Linked DNA regions of Homo sapiens: region 2 is reported to be linked to region 1. Evidence: microRNA targets listed by miRTarBase, many of them from high-throughput screens and not tested one by one. Region 1 holds a microRNA gene; the other region holds the end of a gene's coding sequence.
The links. Region 1 holds the annotated microRNA hsa-miR-3618 (UGUCUACAUUAAUGAAAAGAGC, at 2,588-2,609, opposite strand). A microRNA usually pairs through its seed, bases 2 to 8, with sites in the 3' UTR of a target mRNA and lowers its output. Matches are read on the target gene's strand: a 7mer-m8 pairs with bases 2 to 8, a 7mer-A1 pairs with bases 2 to 7 and ends in A, and an 8mer does both.

Region 1 (4,000 bases):
CCAGGCCAGAATGGCTGCTGACCAGTGAGCTGTGCAGGACGAATGTGGGTTTACCTTCTGAATGAGCCTGTTGAAAATGCAGCACCAAACCAGCCTCCTAGAGGCCCCGAGGTCAAGACTCCTGCCCCCAGCCCCAGAAGCTGAAGCCCCAGGTTTACCCTGCCTGCAACCGTCTAGACCAAAAGCCCTCCTGCTTAACTGCTACCAACACGACATAGGCAGCAACATGTGGCACCTGGCATAGCTAACTTGTCCCCTCAATGGCCCAAGGAGGATGGCCATGTGCCACCCGCCCCTTGCTTTGCTCCCAGTCGCACCCTGCCACCTTGTGCACCCCAGCCCTCAGCCTGGGGTCTCACCTGTGAGCCTGAGTCCCCGTGCATCTCTTCAGTCCCTCTACCGAGCCCCACATCTCCACCAGGACCCTCATAGGTGCCTCCAAGCCACCAACTCCGACTCCCCCAACACCTGCACCACATCGATGACAGAGCCTCACAGTGCAACTCTGGGCGCCTCTCAAGTGCTCTCCCCACTACCCTCAACTCAAAGTTGAGGAAGTGCCACGTCGACCAGGGCACTTCCACCCTGCCCAGCTGAAGTGCACACACCATGCTGTGGCCCAGAAGCCATGTTGTTAAACAAAAATCAGGTAACACCACTTGCTTCTGGTGGCTTCCTGTGACACTTGGTCCAGGACTAGAACCTGGATCACAACTATCACCTGCCATCTCACTGTGTACCCACCTTGCCCTTGGTCTCCACACCCTCCAGCTGATGGTCATGCTGGCTCCTGGCATATACCAACATCCCCTCCTGACCCCCTCAGAAGTCCCCTCCCATTCCTCTGCACAGTGCCTGCTGCTCTGTGGTTTCCATAGCACACACCAGGATCCGCATCTGGGTCATGCATCAGGACGTCCTCCCATCCTGTGTTTCCCTCCTCAGATATTTCTGTCCTGTCCTCAAACATGCCTCCACCCAGCCCACTACCTGGCACCAGAGCTCTCTCAAAGCATTTCTGCTAAGGAAGCAACCACCCCTCCACTGCCCTGGAACACCCACTGCTTCTGACCCACACACGTACTTTTGAGCACTGTTTTAATCTTGGTCATCATCGGCTGCACACTTGTCTCTCCATCGGACGGATGGTCGCTGTCTCCGCCATATTTTTCCTCTGTTCGCCTCTTTTTGGGGGCACAAAGGCCTTCTTCCAGCAGAGCATCCACATCGTTGTCAAAGTCATCCTGCAAAACACGCTGTTCAGACACCAGAGCCCCTGGCGCTCATGCTCCTGCAACAGGAGAGCTCAACAGCATTCCTGAGAACAGACACAGAAAGGAGGTGCTCTCAGGGGGCCTAGATGTGCCCTTAGGGTGCATGATCATCTGAAAAACAAACAGGATGAAGCTACCAGCTGACACCAACACACCTGGTCCAGGGGCACACACTGCCAAGGAGCGTAACTCAGCAGCACCTGCTGCCCCACGCGCTAGATCAGGGATGCAGGGCCTACCCATGGGCCAAACTTTTCATTAGGAAACTTTAAAAATCTGGACTCCTTACATCTTTCTCTTCTCCACATTAACATTATTCCACCTCAGAGGGGATTTTGGTTTTTGTTTTTTTTTTTTTTAATTTCCCTGCTTTCAAAAGATGCTGCAATTCCCAAATCTCTCTTTGGGTTTTGCTAAGAGCCCTCTAGAGGAGGGGCTGCCAACATACCTCGTAGGGGAAATTCAAGGCCTCTTCATCCACTCTGTCTCTCTGAACGATTGCTTTAGCCGTGAACCCGCCTGCTCCTTCTTCATCTAGCTCCAAATTGTCAGTAAAATCTTCTAACTCATCGAGCACTGCATACTCCACTCTCTTTTCCTGATCCAGCTCATTCTCCTCATCCTTCTTATCAGCACTCTCACCCCCTATGCCTACCCCGTCACCAACACTCCCGCCAAAGGGACAAGCATGCACGTCCCCACTGACAGGGCTAAGGAGCAGACCGCACTCCGCCCGCACGTCGCGCTCTGCTCCTGTGTACAGCACCTTCCTGTCCTTACTCCTGCAGCTCTCGGTAAAGCTCACGCTAATCTTTACATCCTTAAGCAACTTAAGGTCAGGGGAGAACTTCCGGACCGCAGGTGCGTGCCGGGCGGTGCGCGGGCTGTGGCCACTACAGTTCGGGTCTATGAGGAGGCGGCCCTTAGAGAAGGATCCTTTGGAGAGAAGAGAAGCTCCGTAGAAGTTGAAGGGGTCCTCAGCAGGGAGTTCGGACTGTCCATCACCACCAGAGCCAACGTCCATTACCTCTGCACCACTGGACGTTTGCAGGGGAGGTGGTGGAGACTGCTCACGGGGCAGCGCTTGGAAGGGGCGAGCTCGGCTCTCCATCACCGCTTCTCCTGCGGGCCCACACGGGAGCGGAGAGGGGCTCTCATCTGTCTCCATATTAAAAGCGCTTAAGACTAGTTTACAAGACCAGAGTTTTACAAGCCCTCACATAAATCTACACAGCTAACATGCACAAGTCCGCTGAGACCCGGGCGCGTCCTGCCGCGCTGTGCGCTGGCGGCTTAGTCAAGCTGGCCACATTGCTCTTTTCATTAATGTAGACAGCTTTTAGAACCACTGCCTCAATTATTGGAAATCACAATGCACTCAGCTTAAGTGACTGGCGACTAAGCGAGTCTGTCTTCATGCCGGAGTGGCACCTTTCTTCTTCTACCTGCAAAGAAATTTAAAAATATCGTCACAAAATGACAGAAACCTTCCAATTCCCTGGTACCAAGTTAAAAGCCAAGCACTATTAACAGCATAGTAAAGGGCTTCAAAATAATATTCCCTAAGAGGACTTTTTAGGCATCAAAACAAACTAACCTTACTTTTATTCTTCAGAACCTGAATTATAACTTAAGTCCAAAGTTAAATATTTTGTTAATGCCCACTTTAATTCCTACTTCAGAAACACAAAAACTATATAATCATAAGGCTCAAAAAATATTTTAAAAATTTACACTAAACTCCACCACAGCATTCTTCTAACTCAGATAAGCAAGCATGCAGTGGGAGGCACCCTTTCTGGAACACACAGAAGGCGCGTGGCCTCCCTCAGGCCACCAGAGCACAGCAATCCACTCACCTGCAAGGGCTGGGTCAGTCAGAGGGCGAGCGCGAGACCCTCAGCTCAACTCTGCGGCACTAGGGGCCTCAGAGGCATGGCCAGGCGCTCTGCTACCCAGGGACCCCAGGGCTCTCCTGGGCCCACAGGGTAGCACGTGGACGGGGACAGTGATGCAGCGTGCTGAGGTCACCAGAGGTGGCAGCATAGTTCTGTTCCCGATGGAGGAGAGGGGTGGGTGGCTGTGGGGAAGGGACCTGCCAGGATTTGGGGTGGGGAGCCACAAGAGACAGCTGGAGCCGAGGCACAGAGAGGCCTGGGTGCCACCTGCAGCCCGTTCCGCCCTGGGGACAATAAGGAGCCACTGAAGGTGAAGCGACTCTCATGCCACAAGTAGGTTCCTACTTGAGAGGGGAGACCCACAGCTGTGCCAGGCAGAAGCAACTGCATCCAAGGCACGGGGACAGTCCTCCAGGCCAGAGGACAAAGGTGTGAAAGAGGCCCTGGCAATGGGCCAAGAACAGTGTCACAGAACTGACCGCACTTGTTGACCCAACGGAGGTGGATAGCAGAGAAAAGAGGGAACTAAAGACAAGGAAGGACACCCAAATTCCAGCATGCAGGCAGGAGCCTGGCGAGGAGAACAGAGGGGACCTCCAGGCAGGCTCTGAAGGTGCCGAGGCCACAACTCTGGAGCCATGACTGGTCCAGATACGGAAGGCCAGGACGCACTGAGGAGGTAGTCGCCAAACCCACAGGAGGAAGGCCACCCAGAGATGAGGGTTAAGGATGCAACTCTAGGAAGCCTTACTACAGAGGAAGCATGAAGAAAGGGACAACATGAAGCAGGGAAGATGGGTCTGAGGGGGCAGCCAGAAAACCCTGCAT
Region 2 (4,159 bases), not on the chromosome of region 1:
CCCATTCCTTAGATGAGGAAACTGAAACTCAGAGAGGTTAAGTAACCTGCCCAAAGATGCTCATCTAGCAAGTAAGTGGTAGAGCTAGAATTGGACTGGGATTTGTTTGACCGTTTGTGTCTTAGAGTATTCCAAGTTCCTATCCCTTGTTTTAGAACCTGGGCCCACACTTGCATGTGATAACTGAGCTTAGAGCAACAGCTGGATATGATATCTAAGTATAAACGCAATAAAAGTAATTGGTACATTCTTTTGGTTCACATTAGGTTTGAACGACCAAGTGCATGCTGGCCACTGGGAGTGGATCGGTGGTGAACCTGTTGCCTTCACCAATGGGAGAAGAGGGCCCTCTCAACGCTCCAAGCTTGGAAAGAGCTGTGTTTTGGTTCAAAGACAAGGGAAATGGCAAACAAAAGACTGTAGGAGAGCCAAACCTCATAATTATGTGTGTTCCAGAAAACTCTAAATATAACAGACCCTACAGGGGGCCACCTGGAGTTTGTCACCTATTTATTCACAGGATCTGTGAATATTGCTCCATAGAAAACAAATTGTTATGATTGAGTGGGTATACCTTTGTGATTCTGTCTAGTGAAAATGGGACATTTTTAATAGTGCCAGAAAGATTGATAAATAAATATTTTTTACAAGATAAGATACAATTTTTGTATCTCAATACCTTTTAAAATAAATGCCAGCAGTATTATAAAGTGTAAGGTTTGTTTATTCCAGAAGACCCTCACCCTTACCCCATTCCAAATCTCAGGGAGCACCAGTCTCATAGTCCTTGGATTTTTTTAAAAAAAATTTTTGGTCCCGTTACCTCTAATGAATTTATTCTGAAATATGTATCGTAGGTGCTCCTACCACTTTAGTCTGAGTGAAGCTAACTCTACTAGTTCATTAAACCAAAGTTGAACCGCAAAGTTGTCCCTTTGGAGCCCTTTAAATGTGAAATCTAAGATTAGAGGCTGGGGTTGAAAAAGAGAATTTTCTATGATGAAAAAGAAAGACTTTAGATGAAAGAATCTTGTAGGTGGAGGCTCATCTACAAAGCTGTAGTTCAGGTAAGAATTCGGGGGGCTGGCTGTACTCAGAGTTCTACTCATCACTATTCATGAAACAGATCTCCCTTTCCAATTTGAGTGTTGGCATTGTACCATCCCAAAGCTAATGATTGGGTTTCCCCAGCCTTACAGAGTCATGAGAAATTTCAAGTAACATAATCTGTTCCTCTGTGTTTATTGTACTGACAAGCATTTCTCAGGGACACTTGGGATAAGGAGTATATATGAATGATGGTTGACACATGGAAGAAAAATACTGCTTCCTCAGAAATGTCCTGATGAACTGTGCTGATGAACAGAGAAAAATAATACCGAAAACAGAGCCCCTGAAAGCCTACATTCTCGGAAAGGATTTTGAGGAATTTTGAGCCACCTTAAATCTTTAATATTTGCAGAAATGCCATGTTAACTAGATTCTCTAACGGAAAGGTACCTTATTAATTTATAATCTCAGGTGAGTGGAACATTTTTGTAACAATGAAGTATGTTGCAGCGTTACCAGAACTCCCTTCTGAAATCAAGGTTTAACAGTTATAGGAAATTAGAATGTCTGAAACATTTATTTAAAGTTTTTCTCTTTTCATAATCACTGAGAAATATGGTTGTGCCAAATGTCACTTGCTCTATGAGCACCAATGTAACTTCAGAATCAAATTGGGGTTATCAAGTAGGCTAGAGCTCTGGTGCTGGTTTTATTATAAAAATACCTTGAGTGTTGTAGACACTAAAACTGCTTGAAGAAAGTCAGTTCAGTTTCTGGGATATAAAAACATGGCAAGCTTTTTTTATTTCAGTTCATTTATCAAGGTTGTAATTAATAGAAACATTTAGAAAGAGATATTGGAATATGATCCAGACATTCTGTCTATTACTTAAATCTAAACATAATTATAGTGTCAGAGGGTCCTTACCTGAGATGTCGCAGGTGGGCTCCAGATTGGCATAATGTACAGGTTCTCTGTGAGACACAAGCAGTTTCTGGCATTTAACCAAAAGATGCCACACCTATCCTCTTACCAGCTCCTTTCAAATTCCTTCTGGTCCACAGGCTTCTTGCAGTATGGAAATGTGAGATTTGGGCTAAAGAAAAAATAGTTGTTTACCTAAAGGGTTAAGTCCTAGGAAGGAAGTAGAAGTTTGGGAAATGAGGGATTCAAGGGCCACTCCTTCCACTGGAACTCTAAAACTATATAAACCATCTAAAACTGGAAATCTAGAACTATGTCAACTGTGTAGAACCTTGTCAGCATGGCAGATTTATTATACATTTCTGCAATATAAATGATAAATGATACTGAACTAATTGCAAATGTTAGCATAAAGAGTGTTTTGATTTTTATAACAATTAGAAATGCTACAAGAATATTTAAAAATATTCCTGATCATGAAAGCATTAATCAAATTAGAAAATCCAAGTCATTTTAAGAAGATAAAAATAGAAATTCAGGCAAGTTTGGGTGATGGGCGGTATTCATCACAACCTTCATTTTATTCTTACAATTGAGCTTTGACTCAGGGGGAAAAGAAGTAAATGATTGTCAAGGTTCCCTCTGCCTTGATTGATAGTTTCTGATGGGAGTGGGAAGGAAGGAATTGGAGTAATGGGTAGAATGGGAATGAGAGATTACGGGAGAGAGAGATGAGATGGGTTGAACAGAAGAGGATGGGAACTGATGGTAGCTAGGAAGGAAAGCGTCAAGAAGGACCTGAATGTACCCAGCTTTTCTCCCCAAACTTCAATACCACCTCAGGAAAAGGCCCACTGTGTCCAGGGGCGTCAGTCCAGCTCAATAGTGTCTAGCTTTTCAGAATCTTCTGATTGTTTGGTCTTTAACAAAAACATAGCATCTATTTGCTAACAATAAACTTAAGCAACATATGATAATCATTTCATCTCCTTCCAAGAAGTGGTGAAAATGAACCAGGTGACATTAATTTAACTTCTGTTTTTGTTTATTTTTAATACAACCAAAAAGATATGCACATATTTTAATTTACATTATGGTACTGTATAATTTAAACCATAAACTGGTGCTGATTAATTTCTGCAACAAAGCAGCATATTAAATGTACTACATCTAGTGTTGTAGCAAAATTAATAAACTTGTTTTAAGTTCTGAGACACTTTCCTTTAGCTTTTAACGTTTTATCTTATTCCTGGGGGCACATGGGTTTTGGATTTTAGTGATTCTATTTAGCAAGGGATGGAGGAGAAAAGTCAACATGTTTTTTATCTTTATTGGTCAGACCAGCCTTTCGTTGTATCGCTTCCATGTGTCCATACATCCAACCACCATTCATTTGACAAATATTGAACATGGCATGCCAACCATGCAACTGACATTGTTCCAGATACTGGAGCTATTGTAGGGAATAAGATAAAAACAGAAGTATAAAAGCATAGCATATATATGCAAATTTATAATAGCTTTTTACACCTCAAGCTTTTTATCAGGAAGGAAGTCACAGTGGAAATCAGTGATTACATTATCCCTTTTCCTAATTGAAGGGAAACACACAGATACAAACAGCTCAGGCTGAATTTTGTTATATTTCTTTCTTGATTAAGAAACTGATATTAACTTCCTAACTTTTAATCAGGTCAAAGTGTTATTGATAGCAGCCGTCTCAAATTTTCTGTCTCCAGAATCAAGTTAGGAACTAAAGTTTTTATATCTAGTTAATTGATTTTGTAACAACTACTTTTTCCAAAATGATGAGTACATGTCTCTGTATTTTAGGGATTCCTAGAATAACAGAAATTAAAGAGAGATACCTTTGATATCATCTTATTTAATACTCTTATGTTACAACAGAGAAAGTTACTGTGTGAAGAAATCAGCACTAGAACTGAGGTCTTCCACATTTTAGGCTGAATCTTTTCTAATTATTCCACATATCTATTAGCATTCTGAGCAGATAGTTTTATTATATTCAAGTAAAATATACTCATCTTTGAATGATGAGTATAATAAAATTCACCGTATACTTGAAAACACTATCATAAGCAAAAGGCAGACACAAAGGGTCACATATTTTGTGATTCCATTCATATGAAATGTTCAGAATAGACAAATCTATAAAGACAGAAA

Region 2: miRTarBase lists FREM1 as a target of hsa-miR-3618. The part of its 3' UTR that is shown has no 7-base or 8-base seed match.

The regions. Positions count from the first base shown.
Region 1 is chr22:20,084,406-20,088,405 of GRCh38, reverse strand. It overlaps MIR3618 (microRNA 3618), which reads right to left and starts at 2,660; the gene lies at 2,573-2,660. It overlaps DGCR8 (DGCR8 microprocessor complex subunit), which reads right to left. Exons shown (of 14, transcript NM_022720.7): 2 at 1,723-2,719; 3 at 1,085-1,244. The coding sequence starts at 2,442. MIR1306 (microRNA 1306) reads right to left here and starts at 2,348; the gene lies at 2,264-2,348.
Region 2 is chr9:14,733,703-14,737,861 of GRCh38, reverse strand. It overlaps FREM1 (FRAS1 related extracellular matrix 1), which reads left to right. Exons shown (of 37, transcript NM_001379081.2): 37 at 267-710. The coding sequence ends at 466. Among named protein-coding and RNA genes, the nearest start is that of CER1, 13 kb to the right of the region's middle.